3 linked regions of the Homo sapiens genome follow. The protein of the gene in region 2 purifies or fractionates together with the protein of the main gene of each other region. This does not show direct contact. Each region holds a gene or a part of one and is shown on either strand. Other genes may lie near its edges.

Region 1 (7,054 bases), on a different chromosome or scaffold from region 2:
AAACAGCACTATTTTATATTCCATTTTGGGTTTTTTAGTATTTTGAATTCTGAATTGCTTATTTCTTTAGCACTTGTTAGATTTTATAATACAGTATAATATTAAATCCTCAAATTGTACTTTTAAAATTTAAGCTAAAATACCCCAGGACTGGTAACTAATACTTTCACATAAAAGTCCTCCTTAAAGGATCTAAGGAACATCTAATCTTGTTTTAGCTATTCTCCACATCCCTAACCCTGGACTTTGCTCAGAAAGAAAAAAAAAATCTGGTTGCCCTTGGATAACTATGGAGGGGCCAGGAAAATGCGTGAATTTGGGCAGCTGTAATAGAACAGAAATGTATATTTTCAAAGTCTCTTTTATCCAGGTGTCATAGAGCGCCTGACGTTTTTTCATCAAAAGATCTGAGTAGTGTAAGCTGATTATCTCTCTTTTTTTTTTTTTTTTGAGACGAAGTCTCGCTCTTGTTCCCCAGGCTGGAGTGCAATGGCGTGACCATGGCTCACTGCAACCTCTGCCTCCTGGGTTCAAGCTATTCTCCTGCCTCAGCCTCCAGAGTATCCAGGATTACAGGCGCCTGCCACCACTCCTGGCTAATTTTTGCATTTTTAGTAGAGACGGGGTTTCACCATGTTGGCCAGGCTGGTCTTGAACTCCTGACCTCAGGTGATCCACCCGCCTCGGCCTCCCAAAGTGCTGGGGTTACAGGCGTGAGCCCCTGTGCCCGGCCTGGTTATCTCTTTTCAATGGAGAAACTGAGACATATAATAATAAACTAATTAGCCCAGCATGATCTGGCAAGAACCCCACTACAGGTCCCAGGTTGTGATTACTGAAACACAACTCCTTCCTATGAACAAACTCATATTCTTTGTGTGTAATGCTAAATAAAAATCTTAGTTTTAAGAATTACTTGTTATAAGTTAGAGATTAATTTTAGGAGAAGCATGCCTTTTACATTTTTGACCTTGGAATTTAAAAACTAAAATGTGGCATTAAAGGTTTTTTTTTTTTAATTAAGAAAAGAGAATTTCTGTTACATCAAGGAAGAAAGGAAACAAGTCAGAAGCTATTTAGTTTTATGTGTGCTGATATATATAGATATCCTTATTCAGATCTCTAAGATGAAACAGTCCAAGGTCAGATACTGGAAGACCAGGAGAGTGTTTTGATCTTGTGGGGAGTGATCCTGACTACATAGAGGTTCTGCAAAGTCCTAGTTCTATCACCTGTATCTTGGCTCAGTTTCCTAACAATGTAATGGATAATACCAAATACTTTCTACAAATTTATTTTTAAATGCTTTGTGGACTTGTGAATACTTGCTGACTGAATCAGTTAAACTTTAGGGACAGCCAAAAATTTGTATACTGTTCAGGTAGCATTTACTGTACTGTAGGGGCCATTTTCCTGATTAATACTTTGGTGGTTTGGGTGTAAGTAATTCTTAGTGCTTCAGGTACACTCAGGATATACATTTGTCAGCAGATAGGAATTAACCATGTTTGTTTTCAAAGAAAGATAAGTAATGTTTCTGTATATATATTTTTTCATTTTGACTTGGATATTTTTCAAAGTACAGGGGCAAACGAGCCACATTTCAGAAATAAGGATATGTTTCACAGTATGTTGTGGTGATTTATACAAACTTCATAGTGAATCTAGTTTAAGGATGAACTCCCTGACTTACCTATGCTTTTATGTTAGGGAAAAAACTGGCTAAAGTTGTTTTAATTGTTATTTATTTATTTATTTATAAGAAACAGGGTCTCCCTCTGTTGCCCAGGCTGGAATGCAGAGGTACAATCATAGCTCACTGTAGCCTCAAACTCCTGGGCTGAAGCAATCCTCCCTCCTCAGCCTCCTGAGTAGCTGAGACTACCGGCATGTGCCACCACACCTGGCTAATTAAAAAAATTTTTGTTTTGTAGAGGCAAGGTCTCACTATGTTGCCCAGGCTGGTCTCAAACTGAACTCCTGGCCACAAGCGATCCTCCTGCCTGCCTCAGCCTCCCAGAGTGCTGGGATTACAGACATGAGCCACTGTGCCTGGTCTAAATTCTTTATTTATAATTTCATATTCCATAATAATAAACATCTTGAGATTAAATATTTTGTTACTAGGTAATGATTTTTTATAGCCATTTACTCTTGATAATAGCTTGATATGATTTGTGCCATAATGGATTTTGTTTTCAGGACTTGTAATATAATTTCATGGGCAGAGAGTATGTTGTTGAACTAAGGCAGTGAGTGGCTCTCAAACTAGCATACATCAGAATCACCTGGACAGTTTAATAAAACCCAGATTGCTGAGCACCATCCCCAGAGTTTCTGATTCAGTAGGTTTGGGCAGGAGCCCAAGAGCTTGCATTTCTAATAAGTTCCCAGGTGACGCTGATGCCGCTGATCTGGGGATAACACTTTGAGACCCACTGAACTAAAGTGAATGAGAAATTTGCTGAAATTGCCTGAGCATGTGAAAGGATCATGCCTTGTGTGCCTTTTAAAAACTGCTGTTTTGACATTACGCTTTTTTTAAAAGGGCGTATTTTTCACCAGAATTACAGAGTACTTAAATTTTGAATGATTATGGTGATGAATATTAATAATAAAATATCAGGGGTTTAAATAGAATGCTGAAATTAAACCATGTAAATTGCAAAAGTACATTTTAAATTCTGAATTACAGTAGGTCTGGTTCGTGGTTAGTCAAACACCTGGATACTTACATGTGTGTTTTTTAGTATGCATTATATGGATGAATATTATAATGGCCTAGCTTCCTGCCTTTGGAGAAATGGAAAAGAAATGTGAAGTGACCTAGTTAAACCATCATTTTAACTTTACCACCTCTCCCAGATTTTCTCAGGCAGATTTCTTGAGTCCTAACTTGGTAATACTTGTGTAACTTTACTTCAGTGATCTCGGGTCAGACCTTGACTGTAAATATACTACACTAAGTAGGTGATTGATTCATCTGAGAACTCTGTGGCATCATTGCCCTCTCTGTCTAGCAGTCAAAGTAAAGTTATTGACAGATCATCTGCTCTCCTAAGTCACTGGATATGGCAGGAGAAAATGAACCCAGAAAACAAAATGAAGGATAGTGAAATGCAGACACCAGTGATGTCTGCAGCTTTCTCTATACCCAGTGTGGTGGAAGGAGAAAAAGGCAGCACTCTTCTTTCTAATTAAATCCGCATAGCACACTTATTTTCTCATTGTTTCAGCTAAGGGTATGCTGCTATCCCTGTATTTGGTAAAGAGAGATAATGATGATTTGTTTTATAAATGACAAAAGAAAGACTGCTTCCTGCTGCCTAATCTGCAGAGGCACAATGATGACATAGAACTTGCTTTCTCCTTTTCCTGAGAATAACTCCTCATGTTGGGTATATTTGGCCCATTGAAGTTATATATAATTCCTATTCTATGAGAATTTGTTTTATACCTTTGTGAATTGAAGAGAACATACATGTCTTGTGTGTTTTGTTTTTATTGTTTAGGAGAAAACTGATGTGGAAGGAACCTTATTTGTTTATACAAGGTAAGAGTGTTTCACTTTTATAAAGAAACTAATCTTCAAAATAATATTTTAGCTCCGTTGTGTCACTCTTCTTCAAGTGCATGCAGTTTTATTTCAAAAAGAAGTAAAAGAATTAAATCTCAGTTTTGAAATTATTAGTTGACACGAAGAAGGGAATACCAAATAATGTCACCTGGTATATCGTGATGAATACTAATTTCAGAATATAATTTAAACTTCAATGTAGATGAACTTAAATCATTGACTGGGCACTGTTTAAAATAGATTAAATATTCTTTGATTCAAGTGAATGGCACAAAGTTCTTGAATATAATGCATTGGCAAGGAGCTAGAAGAACACTATCAGAAATACTAGATTGTTCAGTTAATATTTGGAAAAGGGTTTCATTGATCATTTTTCTTTTTTTTGAGATGGAGTCTCGCTCTGTCACCAAGGCTGGAGTGCAGTGGCACGATCACAGCTCTTGGCTTGCTGCAACCTCTGCCTCCTGAGTTCAAGTGATTCTCCTGCCTCAGCCTTCTGAGTAGCTGGGATTACAGGCATGCGCCACCACGCCCAGCTAATTTTTAGTAGCAACGGAGGTTTCACCATGTTGGTCAGGCTGGTCTCAAACTCCTGACCTCGTGATCCACCCGCCTTGGCCTCCTAAAGTGCTGGGATTACAGGCGTGAGCCACCGCACCTGGCTGTTGATCACTTTTCTCCCACCCCTGACTCTTTAAAAAAGCATGATCCAAAATTGAAGATGTCTTTCAGTCCTCCATTGTCTAGTCAATAGAATATGTTTCAGGATAGATTTAATAAACTCATGTTTTTAGTCATTTCTTGTTATCAGATATTAATATCAAATTACGAGTGCATATAGAGACATACATTATGTATATTGGCTCAATAAATAAACTTTTCATTCACATAAACATTCACATAAAATGTCATAGCCAAAGGTCATCACCTTCAATGAGGGTACAAAGATGAAATTAAAAGACCTAATATAAACCTTTCTAGGGGTATCTGTTTCACTGGGGAGACAGGAAATACACACACACAAGTGTATTTTCTTTCCACATATATTCATGTTTATGGTAAGCCACAATACAGGATAGAGTATCCTAAGTGCCAGTGGATAGATTCTGAGCAATGAATGGGCTGCTGTGATCATGGAAGGCTTTATCGCAAGCTTGTCCAACCCACGGCCCATAGGACACGTGGCCCAAGATGGCTTTGAATGTAGCCTGACAGAAATTCGTAAACTTCTTTAAAACATTAGAAGAGTTTGTTGTTTTTTTTTTTTTTTTTTTTTTTTTTTTTTTTTTTTTTTAGCTCATCAGCTATTATTAGTGTATTTTATGTGTGGCCCAAGACAATTCTTCCCTTTCCAAGGTGTCCCAGGAAGGCCAAAAGATTGGACACCCCTGCTTTATAGAGTGATGTGTCTTGAATTGGGCCTCAGGAATATGGTGGAACTTAGCTTGCATAGAGGAGAGGGAAGGCAGTCTCAACAGGAAGAATGGCAAAAGCAGGGGCGGAGAACCTGGTGTGTTAAAGGGACAGTGAGGGAGATGTGGTGCAGAGGGCTTATACTGGTTTATAGTAGTTAGCAAGTGTAAAGAGATTTGCTAGCTTGGAATGGCAGACTCTGGATTTTGAGATTATTTTCTTAGCAGTAGGAAGTTATTGAAGGCTTATGAACAGGAGAGTAATAGAGAAAATGTATGGGGAAAGTCAGTGTATTCACTTCATGGGGACGCACTAGTTCTGGAAGAAATTGGAGTCAGGACAGTGAGAAGATTATTGCAGTGGGGTAGATATGAAATGATGAGAGTTGGGATTAGAATAATAGAAATTGAAATGGAAAGGGTATTGCAATGGTGAAATTTTAAAAATGACAATATTTTGAACATGGAAGATTGAGAATGACAGAAGCATTGGTGGAAAAGAAAGACAGGAGGTCAAGAATGTGGCTTGAGGATCAGCCCTCATTTTACTTTGAAGTAATGATTTGGAACTGGTAGCAGGACACTTGGGTGGAGGTGGCCAGCCCCTCAGAGTAAGGGCAGGGCTGGAGATGGTTTAGAGTTGTCTGAAGTAATTTGGTAGTTGAAACCATGAAATAAAAGCTGTTCCCTGAAGGAGTGAGTATAAAGAGGAACCGATGAGGGTTTATGGTTAGGTTTGAGGGCCAGCAAGGATACAGATGAGTCAGCTGGAAAGATAAAAGCAGGACTAGAACAGCACAGAGAGGCCCATTTGGGGCAAAGTGTGGGCATGATGGAGGTCTGTGTATGCTGGGCAGGAGGGAGCTCAGCTGCAGGGGAGGAAGGTCTGTTCCAGTGGAGGCAACAATGGGAGGTGGAAGGAAGGAATGGGAGGCAAGGCCAGCACACTTGGTGACAAGGAGGTCAGGTTCTTCACAGTCTCAGAAGAGCAGTGGAGTACCCAAGAACCGTTGGTATATGAGTCTACATTATGCTCCCAAACATCCAGAGCACCAGAGCATGCCCCCAGGCAAGTTTATTGGGTAGAGTATGAGCACTCTTGAGGATTCTGAAGTTTACAACAAAAGCCATAGGGTTGCACTGTACTATGTGCCATGCACACAGGGTGCGTTCTCACTCATCTCTCACAACACGCATTATGATTCTTTGGAGAAGTGACAGAAAAGATGTATTAGTAAGTATTAATGATTGATTTGGGGAATTTTTAGTAGGGTTTTTTTTTAACTATGGAAGAGGAACAAATCATACAAATATTTTCTTTTGTACATCCAGACCAAATATAAGTTTGTATTTTCAAGGATTTCTTACTATACTCTAAGTCTCTAATGGAACTCTCAATTAAACAAAACATTAAATTGAGAAAAAAATCCTTTGCTGTTTTTTAGTCTTTTCTCCAAATCTAACTCCTCAAGAATGGGATGCCTCCCTTATCCCCTGCAAAACAAAAACCTCCCAGATCCTAGAATGTTGAAGGCTTTCTTCAGTAGCGAATTACAAAAAGCATGTAAAACTCATGGTGGGTGGGGGGTGGGAGGCTTGTTACAGGGAATGGAGCTGGCAGTGATTTATTTTGACTTCTCTTACAGAAGTTGCTTTAGAGCAGTTGGCACATTTATCCCCTGGGCCTATTTTCTAAATTATGAGATGCTATAGTAGCTGTACTATTAAAGAGGTGAGATCCTGTTGTGATAATGAAATACATGCAGAATCAAATTCTCATTCTTGTATGAAAACACTTAATCCCATTTAAAAAATCATTTATTTCCTCCCATGCCTTCCTTTCTGTAATAGAGAGTTCATAGAGACACCCACTGGTGATTTCTGAACTTGACAGTTCCAGAAGACCCCTAACAGAGCTCTTTGGGAGTACATTTTCATTCTTCCTCTGAATTTAAGTTGAAGTGATGATCATGATTATTTCTGGTATTGATTGTATGCTTACCACCACTTTACCCCTTTGTAAAATAAGCTAGGCAAGGATTGCCTCCCATCAATTTTAAAATTG
Region 2 (6,982 bases):
ATGCCCCCAGTGGGAGAAGGTGAACCCTCATCCTCTTCAGGTTTCTGCAAAGGCCGCTGGGGAGGAGGATCACACTTATGGGCACCCGAGGGACCTTCTGGAAATTCCTCAGTGAAGAGAGCTTTGTGGTGGGGGAGCAAAGCCACCCCCCACTATAGATGACAACTTGGGGGGAGCTACTATGTGCTTGCTAAGGCCACGTGGCAGGGCCCTGGCATGGAGAGGAGCCTGACGCTAGACAGCTGCTGCTAGAGAAGAGAGGCCCCCTTGACGGCTGTGCCCACAGGGAGACTGGGCTACTGCTCAGCAAAGTCCTCTCGAGAGTGGCTGATGGATGAGATTTGATGCTGCCTGGCAGAGATGAGCAGGCAGGCAGTGTGCAGAAGGAAAGGGGGTGAGGTGGGAGCAGCCCCCCTTGAACTGCTCTGCTCACCTTCTTTCTCCATGCTTGTCCTTCCTCTCCAACACTTCTCCAGAGAGAAGTGGTAGGGGTCAGGGTGGGGAAGAGTTGGCCTTTAATGGACAGGGCAACGGTCCTAACCAGGGAAAAGCTGAGACCTGCGGCCTACCTGACTCATCCTGGCAACACGGCCCTCGGTGGCAGCTCAGACTCTACAGGTGATTGCAGAGCCAGTGAGGCTCACCTGCCGCCCCTCCTAAACTCTTTTCCCACCCTGTCCCATCCTTCCTGCTCCCCACCTCCCCCTGCCCACCATGTAGCCCATCCTCAGCCCCTCAAGGTCTGTTTCAGTCTGTGCTTTTCCTTCCTGTCTCCACATGGCAATCCAAGTCTCGGGGTGCATTTGCACAGTAACAGCCAGCCAGGCTAATCCTAAGGGATTTCCAGTTAGTGGCACGTGCGTGCTCTCCCACCCCTGGTCTGGAAACCAGGAGCAAAGTGCTCAGTTACTCATTTTCCGCCTTTGCAAGCAGCTCAAGTCCCTTGGGAAAGCACAGCTCCCAAAGGGTTCTGGGAATACCGGGGCTCCTGTAGGGCCAACGGGGCTTTCTGTGAGCAAGATTTGCCTAGAGAACACAGCAGCCAGGGTGTGAGAAGCCTAGCAAGTAGTTTCTTCCTCATTGGCCTGGGGCTCTGTGGCTCTCTCTCAGCAAATAGTTAGGCATGGCCTTAATTTATTTCCCTGCCAGAGTTCCTCCTGGAGGGGGGCCAAGCTAGTAGACAGGAAGGCGGGGACTGGCAATTTAGTAGAAATCCATGCATGTAATTGCGAGGACCAGAAGAACAGGAGCAAGTGCGCAGGGAGTCTGGGGGCTCTGGGCAGGCAAGGAGGAGAACAGGGTGTGGGGGAGCAACCCTTTCTTCTGCTTCAGGTGGGAAGAATTGAGGCCGGCCAGGCCCAACAACACAGCCTTGCAAGCTCCTAATAGAAGAAATGGCTTTCCTGGCTCCACAGGGTTCCTCAAGCAGGCAGGGGACCTTCTCAGGTCATAAGATGAGCCCCACGACACAGTTCTCATTTCATCTGGGCGTGAGTGGTTTCTGCCCCTCTCTGGGCCTTAGATGCCTCAGATTTCCCAAAGCAGCCTTCGTCTGAGAGCACTGTCCCGGGAGTCAGGCACGTGAGGCTGACTCTCTGCTCTCTCACCAGGTGTGGGAGCCACACCAGGTCACTCAATTTCTTAGAGTCCCATTGGCAAAACGGATAATAGAGTCTCCTTGAAGACTGATGGGGAGGATGGAGTGACCAAGGGATGCGAAGGGTTTCTAAGTAGTGCATGGTCCATAAATGCACTCAAGAAAGAAGAGCTGTCATCTTTATCCATTCCAAGCACAGCCCATGGCTGCTTTCCAAGCTCCTTAAAAACACGCTGCAGAAGTTCCTATCCTGCCAACGCCCTCAGGCAACAGGCGCCACAGCACCTCTGCTTTCCCAAGACTTTGTCCACGCTCTCCACGCTCCATCCCGAGCTTAGTGAGGGGCAGGACTGTGTCTACTGTGTCAGTGGGAAGCTGCTTTGGAGCATGTGCCCCTTGGTGAAAACCCTGTGGATAGGACGTGATCTCATCTTCTGGGATTCTCCAGCAATGACGGGGAGTTTGTGGAAACTTGACTTGGGAGAACCTGCTTGCAGGCATACGGCAGTGGCCAGCCCCCAACCTAGAGTCAACCCTCCTTCCAGATCTTCCCAGGAGGTCCCAGTCCTCAGAATTCCCTCCAAGCCCCGCCGGGAATAAAAACCAGGCAGTAACGGGTGTGCAGAAAACCTATACATCCAACCTAACTTGGCTGAAGAAGACACCCTCCCCCCCGCCGTCTGTGCTCCGGTGTCTCGGTGACTCAGGGTGCCCACCTTCACGGCTGACCTGCTCATTCCCGGGGGCCCCTGCGGCTGTGCCGTTCCCTCAGGTCACACTGGCTTGGGTCCTTAGAGCACCCTTGGGTCCAGGTGCCCTGGGCCACCTCCCATTAGTTAGGGACCGCATCCGTGGGGACAGAAACTTCCATCTCACTGAACCTATACACAGGAGCCAGGCTGGGCTTGGAGGTCACCAGCCGCCTGGGAGTGGACCCGGAGAGGCTGAGTGCGGCCCTCCCTCTCAGACGGCAGACCCCGAACCTCCACCCAGAATCCGAGCCCGGACACGGCCAGCAGGGAGCTAGGAGATGAAGTCCAGCCCTGGCTGCCCGGCTCCTCTGGGAGGGCAGCGAACCCGCGGGAGCGCATGAGCGGCCTCTCCCGGGGGGGCGGTAGGAGCGCGTCCCCTCCAGGGCGCTTTGGGATCGGGCTGCTCCGGGCCAGTGCTCGCGCTGGGGACCTGCGACGCCTCAGCCCCTGCCCAGACTGCGCCGCCCGCCGCGGCCACACCTCCCAGTCCCTGGGAAAGTCCCCGCCGCCGGCGCGAACCCACCTTCCGGGAGCCCAGGGGCCCTGCTGGGGACTCGCCGGTGTCCCCGCCGCCTCCTCCTGCGCGGGTCCGCGCTGCCCGGCCTCAGCTCAGGGCTCCCGCCTCGCCTCCCCGAGCTCCGGTGAATTCTCGGCGCTGCTCCTTTCGGAAAGGACTTTTTTTTTCCCCCTGCGTTGCGTCAGGGCGGTTGCCTGGCGACGGCCGAGCTCTCCGCCGCGAGCCTTTCACCGCGATCCCGGCCTCGCGTTCTCGCCCCGGGTCCGAGCGCGCCCCGGGTCCTAGCGCCCTGTCGGTTCACCGGCCCGGGCAGCCCCCGCGAGTGGAGAGGAACTACATGCCTTCGCCAAACCCCAGATGAAACCAAACCCAAACATCCATTTTCTCATTAAACCCGAAACCAAGGCAGTTTCCCCCAATTGTGGCAACGTGACTGCGCCACTGTCAGAAGTTTGTCCGCATGGAGGGCGCAGGGGGACCCCACGCCCAGGGCCTCACCCACCCCCAAACGGCAGGAGTTCATAGGACCCGCGGCCACGACTGCCCGCGAGCGCCTACCGTGGGCCACGCCCCCCAACGACCCAGCAGGGCAAGTGTAGGCATCTCTGGCTGCCAGATGAGGAAACTGAGGTGCAAAGACGCGAGCGTTTGCCCCACTAACCACAGGGTGTCTGTCCCGCCAGGGGCGCGGCATCGGCCACCTCTGGCTGTCGTTAGATTCTAAGACCCAGTCCCTGCTGCATCAGAGCCCAGAGCTGCAAACCCTAAGGCACAGGCAGGACAGCAGCCCGAGCTGCCCGGACCGCAGGTCTTCAGGACCAGTCCCAGCTTCTGACGAGGGGCCCAGGCCAGACACTGGAGGCCCCAAGGCTGGTTACTGGATGGGGGTCTCTTACCCCAGACCTCATCAAGCACCTTTCCTAGATGCCCGGGGCTGGAAGCGTCTTTCAAAGGGCTCCAGTCTGCCATTCTCACGATAGCCCTGGGCGTGCGCGCAGGCGCCGCCTACATGGCCAGACGCGAAGCTGAGTGGTGGGGCTGCAAAGTGACTGGCGCAGGCTCCAGGCAGGTGCGCGGCTGGTCGGGCCTTCTGTGGGGTCTTAGCCCCTGCAGGGGCCCGAGACACTCGTGCTGCCCTCTGGTGCCCGCGTCCTTCACTGCAACTCCGCATCCAGCCCTGACCTACTCCCTTCCTTTCTGACCTTCACTGGAAGGTCCTCTGAGGGACGTCGTCTAAGGAGACATCTTGCCAGTACAGACCTAGTCATGCTAATGAGGGAACGGTCCTAAGCTAGCGGGTGTATTAACAAGCATCTTTTGGAGAGTCACAGCCTTGATCCAGATCTTCTGATTCCAGCTCCTAAACATCACTCCTTCCTTCTTCCTGCCCGCTGCCACTGTCCCTACCCAAGCCACCAGCAGCTTGCCCTACCCAGTTCTGGGACCTGCCACCCGGGTCCAAGCGTGCACGCAGTCTCCATACTGATCTCCCTTTACCCTCTCTCAGCGCCTCCCAAGCCAGTTACTCCTCCACAAACAGGGGAAACTCTTAAGAATGGAAATCCAGTCTCAGCTGCTTCTGCTTAAAGGCCTTCAACGCCCCCAGTCCTCTGAGGATTAACAGCTAGCTTGGCTGCAGGGGCCTGGCTGGCCTCTGTCCGTCTCTAGGGCCTTGTCTTGCACAGACCCTGCTCCCCAGACAACAGACCCTCTTCCAGTCCCATTGTGCACCTGCTCCTCCCGACAGGCTGCTGCAGCTCTGCCTCCTAAGGGAACCCCAGGTTACAGGTGCTGGCAGCCCCCTGCCTTATGTCCTTCATGGACCAGTTATAATTCCAAGTTTACCTGTGAGGTTATTTGATTAGTATGTGTCTCCCTCTGAGGCAGTAGGCTCCGGAAGGGCATGAACCATGTTTGCAAGCAGGAGCCTCAATCTGGACTTGGGGATAAAGCATCCTTCTGGGTGCTGGCTGTTTCTGACCACAGCCCCGGTGCTGAGCCCTAGTTGGCTGCATTGCTCACTGGTGTGCCCATGGCCCTGGCACGTGGTGAATGCTCCAAGATCTTTTTGGATGGGCCATTCAGCCCCATCTGGAAATGCTTTGTCCCACCTCTACCTCCTGGCTCCCTGTTTGACCTATGGCTTCTATTTCTGGGAGTGCAGATGCTTTCTCATGGGGGAATTGTGGCATGCCTCAAATGGACAGGCAGCCTGTCCAAGGCAAGGGTGGTGTCTTGCCCTGTGGCTCCCATTCTGCCTGGCATTTGTCTGCGGGCAGGAGGGTAATCAGTGATGGGGACCAGGAGGAGAGTGGGCCAGAGGAAAGAGGAAGGGGAGGAGGAAGAGCAGTCTTGGTTGGAGTAGCCTCAACTCCAAAGTGAAATCATATGGAGTGGTCAAATAAATGAGTTAGCACAGAATGGTATGTAGCCATAGAAATAATATTCTCAAAAGCTATTTGATCATATAGAAAAATACTAACGATTTAACGCTAAGTAAATAAGACTGGGACACCAAATCCTGTGTACATTATGAAACTTCTCATTCCAATATCTAATTCATATGTATGCATGGAAAAAAGATTGGAAGAGTGTATGCAAATATTAGCTGTCGTTATCTCTGGGCTGCAGGATAATGGAGGATTTAAAATGTCTTCTGTAAGCCTGCATTCGTTTTCTACAATGAATCGTTTTGTAATGAGAAACATCAAGAAACACTACTCAAAAGGGAAGATGGCACTGTGTTGGTGTTTCTGATGGCACTTCCTTTTGTGTCAGGCACACTGAAACCCAGTGATGGTGGGAGGATCTGGGTGGGCCAGAGAAGGCAAGGCCACCTAGAGGTTCTCTCTTCCCTTTGATTCCTTACAGAGAAGTTTTCTTTCCGTTGGTGCATGATGCATGAGACATTGCCTCTTATAATCCTACAGGAAGCTGTGAAATAGATGAGTCAAGAAAAATGCCCAACCAGGCATGGTAGCTCACACCTGTAATCCCAGCAATTTGGGAGGCCGAGGCAGGGGGATTGCTTGAGCCCAGGAATTGGAGACCAGCCTGGGCAACATGGTGAGACCCCACTTCTACAAAAAAAAAATGAAGAAGAAGAAAGAAAACTCAGCTGGGCATGGTGGTACACACCTGAAGTCCCAGCTACTTGGGAGGCTGAGGTGGGACTGCTGGAACCCAGGAGTTGAAGGTTGCAGTCAGCCATGATTGCACCACCGCACTCCAGCCTGGGCAACAGAGCAAGACCCTGTCTCAAAAATAAATAAATAAATAAATAAATAAATAAATAAATAAATAAAAGATTTAAACTTAAAATATTCTTTCAGAATTTCTCCCAATTCGTTTATTCATCTGTTCAATAAATACGTATTAGTACCACTAAATACCAGACATTGTTCTAGGCTCTTGGGAAATGTTAGTGAACAAGTTAGATGAAGGACCTCGCCCTTGAGAACTGATAATCTAGCAGAGGAAAGCAGGCAGACGATGACCGACAAATACGCTAAGTAAATAAGCAATATTGTGAGTGATAGAAAAACAGAATTGTAGACTTGGATTGGAAGTAATGGCAGAGGAGGGGAAGAGTGTGCACGTTTTCAGGCAAGGTAGGCAGGGCTGGCCTCGCTAATAAGGTGGTTTTCTAGCAAAGATTTGAGGGAGACGATGGAGGGGGTCTTGTGGTGTCTTGGGGAAGGGTGTTCTAGGGAAAGGGTCAGTGCAGAGGCCCTGGGCCAACAAACGTGCCTGCCACAATCAGGGGCCAGCATGGATGCCTCGAGGCCAGAATGCAGCAGGCAGGGAGTAGAGCATGGGTGGGAGATGACATCAGAGACAGGGCAGGGCAGGTGCTGCGGCAGAGCCCTTGGGCCTGGCAGACCTCGTGAGGACTGGCCTTCCCCCGAGGGGAGCTCCAAATGCACAGCTGGAACCAGACTCTGCTCTCTTGTCACTCTCAGGGCACAAAGCCCTCTCTAAATCAGTCTCTCCTGATCCCTTTTGAGTCTATAAGCTACTTGAAGGCGATTCCTGGATTCTAGGGATACAAGAGAAGGAAGGATGAAATTTCTGTTGGGCTCTGTGGGACAGAGGACACTAAGGGTGGCGACATCC
Region 3 (3,724 bases), on a different chromosome or scaffold from region 2:
GACCTCAAGTGATCTGCCCGCCTTGGCCTCCCAAAGTGCTGGGATTACAGGCGTGAGGCACTATACCCGGCCTAGTACAGCCATCTTAACAATATTTTTACTCCACGAACATGAGATGTGTTCCATTTATTTAAGCTATTTTTTCAGCAATGTTTTGTAATTTATAGTGTACACATTTTTCCCTTCTCTGGTTAAACTATTCCTAGCTATTCTTTTGGATGCTGTTGTAAATTGAATTTTTTTTTTCAGTTTCCTTTTCAGTGTGTTCATTTCTGGTGTATAGAAACACAACTGACTTGTGTGTGTTGATCTTATACCCTATAACTTTGCTGAGCTTATTAGTTTTTTGTGGATTCTTTTCTTTGGGATTTTCTACGTGTATAATCATGTCATCTGCAAAGAGAGATAGCTTTACTTCCTTCCTAACTTGGAATCCTTTTCATTTCTGTTTCTTCCCTGATCGCTCTGCCTAGAACCTCTAGCCCCATGTTGAATAGCAGTGGTGAAAGCAGGCATCCTTGCCTTGTTGCTGATCTTTTTTCTTTTTTTCTTTTTTTTTTTTTTTTGAGACAGAGTCTCACTCTACATGTAGCCCAGGCTGGAATGCAGTGATGCGATCTCGGCTCACTGCAAGCTCCGCCTCCTGGGTTCACGCCATTCTCCTGCCTCAGCCTCCCGAGTAGCTGGGACTACAGGTGCCCACCACCATGCCAGGCTAATTTTTTTTTGTATTTTTAGCAGAGACAGGGTTTCACTGTGTTAGGATGGTCTCAATCTCCTGACCTCATGATCTGCCCACCTTGGCCTCCCAAAGTGCTGGGATTACAGGTGTGAGCCACCGCACCCGGCCCGTGGCTGATCTTAGGGGAAAATTTTGTCTCTCACCATTGGGTATGGTTAGCTGTTTTATTTTGTTGAGGAGGTTCCCCTCTATTCCTAGTGCTTTTCTCAGGAAAGAGTGTCGCGTTTGTGACTTTGACTGCTTGGTTGCAGGTGCGCACCACTGTGCCCGGCTGATTTTTGTTTTTTTTGTTTTGTTTTGTTTTGTGACGGAGTCTCGCTCTGTCGCCCAGGCTGGAGTGCAGTGGTGCAGTCTCGGCTCACTGCAAGCTCCGCCTCCCGGGTTCACGCCATTCTCCTGCCTCAGCCTCCCCAGCAGTTGGGACTACAGGTGCATGCTGCCACGCCCGGCTAATTTTTTGTATTTTTAGTAGAGACGGGGTTTCACCATGTTAGCCAGGATGGTCCCAATCTCCTGACTTTGTGATCCGCCTGCCTTGGCCTCCCAAAGTGCTGGGATTACAGGCGTAAGCCACCACGCCCGGCCTGATTTTTGTGTTTTCAGTAGAGATGGGGTGTTACCACATTGGCCAGGCTGGTCTCAAACTCCTGACCTCAAGTGTGATCCACCCACCTTGGCCTCCCAAAGTGCTGGGATTACAGGCAGGAGCCACTGCGTCCGGCCCCATCTGATTTCTTCACTACAGAGTTGCTGTCTTTTGTAATGATAATTACCATGTTATTTTTGAGTGGGATTAGACATCAATTTGTGACTCTCACCAGCACGCCTAAGGGCCCCACGAATCGCTGGTGTAGAGCGTGTGTGTTTTCATAACATGAAGGGAGAAGAGCAGTTGCGACAGTTGTCCCTGAGCAAACATTTGCATCCAGCTGGGCACGCGTGCCTCCCCAGGCTAGGGCAGCGGGTGCTCACCCTGCCCTCTTCCTGTTCACAGCCTGATTCGGACTCCACCAAACACTCAACTCCATCGAATAGCTCCAACCCCAGCGGCCCACCGAGCCCCAACTCCCCCCACAGGAGCCAGCTCCCCCTCGAAGGCCTGGAGCAGCCGGCCTGTGACACCTGAAGCCGCCAGCTCGCCACAGGGGCCAGGGAGCTGGAGATGGCCTCCAGCGTCAGTGCCAAGACTGAGCGGGCCCTCCAGTGTTGTCCAAGGAAATGTAGAATCACTTTGTAGATATGGAGATGAAGAAGACAAATCTTTATTATAATATTGATCAGTTTTATGCCGCATTGTTCGTGGCAGTAGACCACATCTGTTCGTCTGCACAGCTGTGAGGCGATGCTGTTCCATCTGCACATGAAGGACCCCCATACAGCCTGTCTCCCACCCCTGACAACCCGAGAGGGCATATGGGGCCCTGCCAACACCACTTCCTCAGCAGAAACCCGTCATGACGCGGCTGCTTCGGAAGCAGACATCTGGGGACACAGCCTCAGTACCCAGTCTTTTCCCTAGTTCCTGAAACTTTCCTAGGACCTTAAGAGAATAGTAGGAGGTCCTATAGCATTCCCAGTGTCACTAGAATTTTGAAGACAGGAAAGTGGAGGTTAGTCTGTGGCCTTTTTTTCATTTAGCCATTGCACAGTCAGCTGCAGAAGTCCTGCTGACCACCTAGTCATGGACAAAGGCCCAGGACCAGTGACACCCTGCGTCCCTGTGTGCATTAAGTTCATTCTGGGTCGCAGCCATGAAGTGTCACCAGTATCTACTACTGTGAAGTCAGCTGTGCTGTTTTCCATTCGCTTCCACGGCTTCTGCCTCCTGCCATAAAACCAGCGAGTGTCGTGGTGCAGGCAGGCCCTGTGGCCTGCTGGGCTGAGGGAAGTCAGAGCCCCAGGGCGCCACGAAGCAGCCACTGGGATACCCCACCCCGCCCCGCCCTGCCCGCCCCCCCCCCCACCAGTCCTGCCCCCGCATGGAGCCCCCGTGATTAGTAGCCCGTATGATCACGTAGACCCACCCAACACACTCCTGCACACTGGCCCCGGCCCACGGCACAGCAATCCCCTGCGCGTGGATTTCACCTCACCCTTTGTACCAGATGTTGAGTGACCAGCTCTGTGGCCCTGTGTCGTCAGAGGCTTGTGATTAACTGTGGCGGCAGACACAGCTTGTCCACAGCTTGGGCCAGGCTTCCCCTGTCCTCCCACCGGTCGGCTGCTTGGCAAGGCTGTTCAGGACGTGCACTTCCCCAAGTCGGCACTGAGTGGCCCAGCACCGCCTAGCCCTGCCACCCCACTGCCCTCCTGGGCCTTCTGCTGGATGGGCACCTGGGGGGTTCTGGTTTTTACTTTTTTAATGTAAGTCTCAGTCTTTGTAATTAATTATTGAATTGTGAGAACATTTTTGAACAATTTACCTGTCAATAAAGCAGAAGACGGCAGTTTTAAAGTTCCCAGTGGTCCGTTTGGATGTGGTAACATGTCACCCGTGTGTCTGGGCCCCAGAAGTGCCTGAGCTCCAAAAGGCAGTGAAGGAGCCACCTTGCAGAAGATGCTATTCGCCAGCAGAAGCTATTCTGGGTAACTCACTCGGAGGTCACCCAAAAGGCTGCTGTTGGGGTGTTCAGCCTGAACAGAGGGCATCCTTGGGGCAGGAGTGAAGGGAGGAGGGCAGCGTGCCTGTGAGCCCCAGCCAGGCAGTGCCAGGGCCCCAGGAGCAGGCTGCCCGCGAGGGTCTGCCTGTCCACACCCATACACGCCAACCCTGCCAGCAGCCCCAAGGGACAGGATGGGGTAGGCCAGAGGCCCCAGGAAGAGGCAGGAGTTCTCGGGGAGGTCTGGGCCAGGGTGAGTGGTCCCTGGTTGAGGGAATGCTCGGAGTCAGTTTCCTGAGTTATGCAGGGAGTTGGCTTCTATTTGCCACTCACTGAGACCTAGTTGTCCTTGGTAGGACAAGGGCAGTGATGGCCCCTGCAG

The links.
Region 1: the proteins of FAM167A (region 2) and DCP1B purify together in Homo sapiens (co-immunoprecipitation; 3 studies listed by BioGRID and IntAct, with this or other methods). This does not show direct contact.
Region 3: the proteins of FAM167A (region 2) and CDC42BPB purify together in Homo sapiens (co-immunoprecipitation; 4 studies listed by BioGRID and IntAct, with this or other methods). This does not show direct contact.

What each region holds. Positions count from the first base shown.
Region 1 is NC_000012.12:1,994,434-2,001,487, reverse strand, and holds part of DCP1B (mRNA-decapping enzyme 1B), read left to right. Parts: intron 1-3,512; coding exon 3,513-3,553; intron 3,554-7,054. UniProt on the Homo sapiens protein: May play a role in the degradation of mRNAs, both in normal mRNA turnover and in nonsense-mediated mRNA decay. May remove the 7-methyl guanine cap structure from mRNA molecules, yielding a 5'-phosphorylated mRNA fragment and 7m-GDP.
Region 2 is NC_000008.11:11,463,754-11,470,735, forward strand, and holds the start of FAM167A (protein FAM167A), read right to left. Parts: upstream 3,001-6,982; 5' UTR 2,873-3,000; intron 1-2,872.
Region 3 is NC_000014.9:102,931,856-102,935,579, reverse strand, and holds the end of CDC42BPB (serine/threonine-protein kinase MRCK beta), read left to right. Parts: intron 1-1,736; coding exon 1,737-1,868; 3' UTR 1,869-3,200; downstream 3,201-3,724. UniProt on the Homo sapiens protein: Serine/threonine-protein kinase which is an important downstream effector of CDC42 and plays a role in the regulation of cytoskeleton reorganization and cell migration. Regulates actin cytoskeletal reorganization via phosphorylation of PPP1R12C and MYL9/MLC2.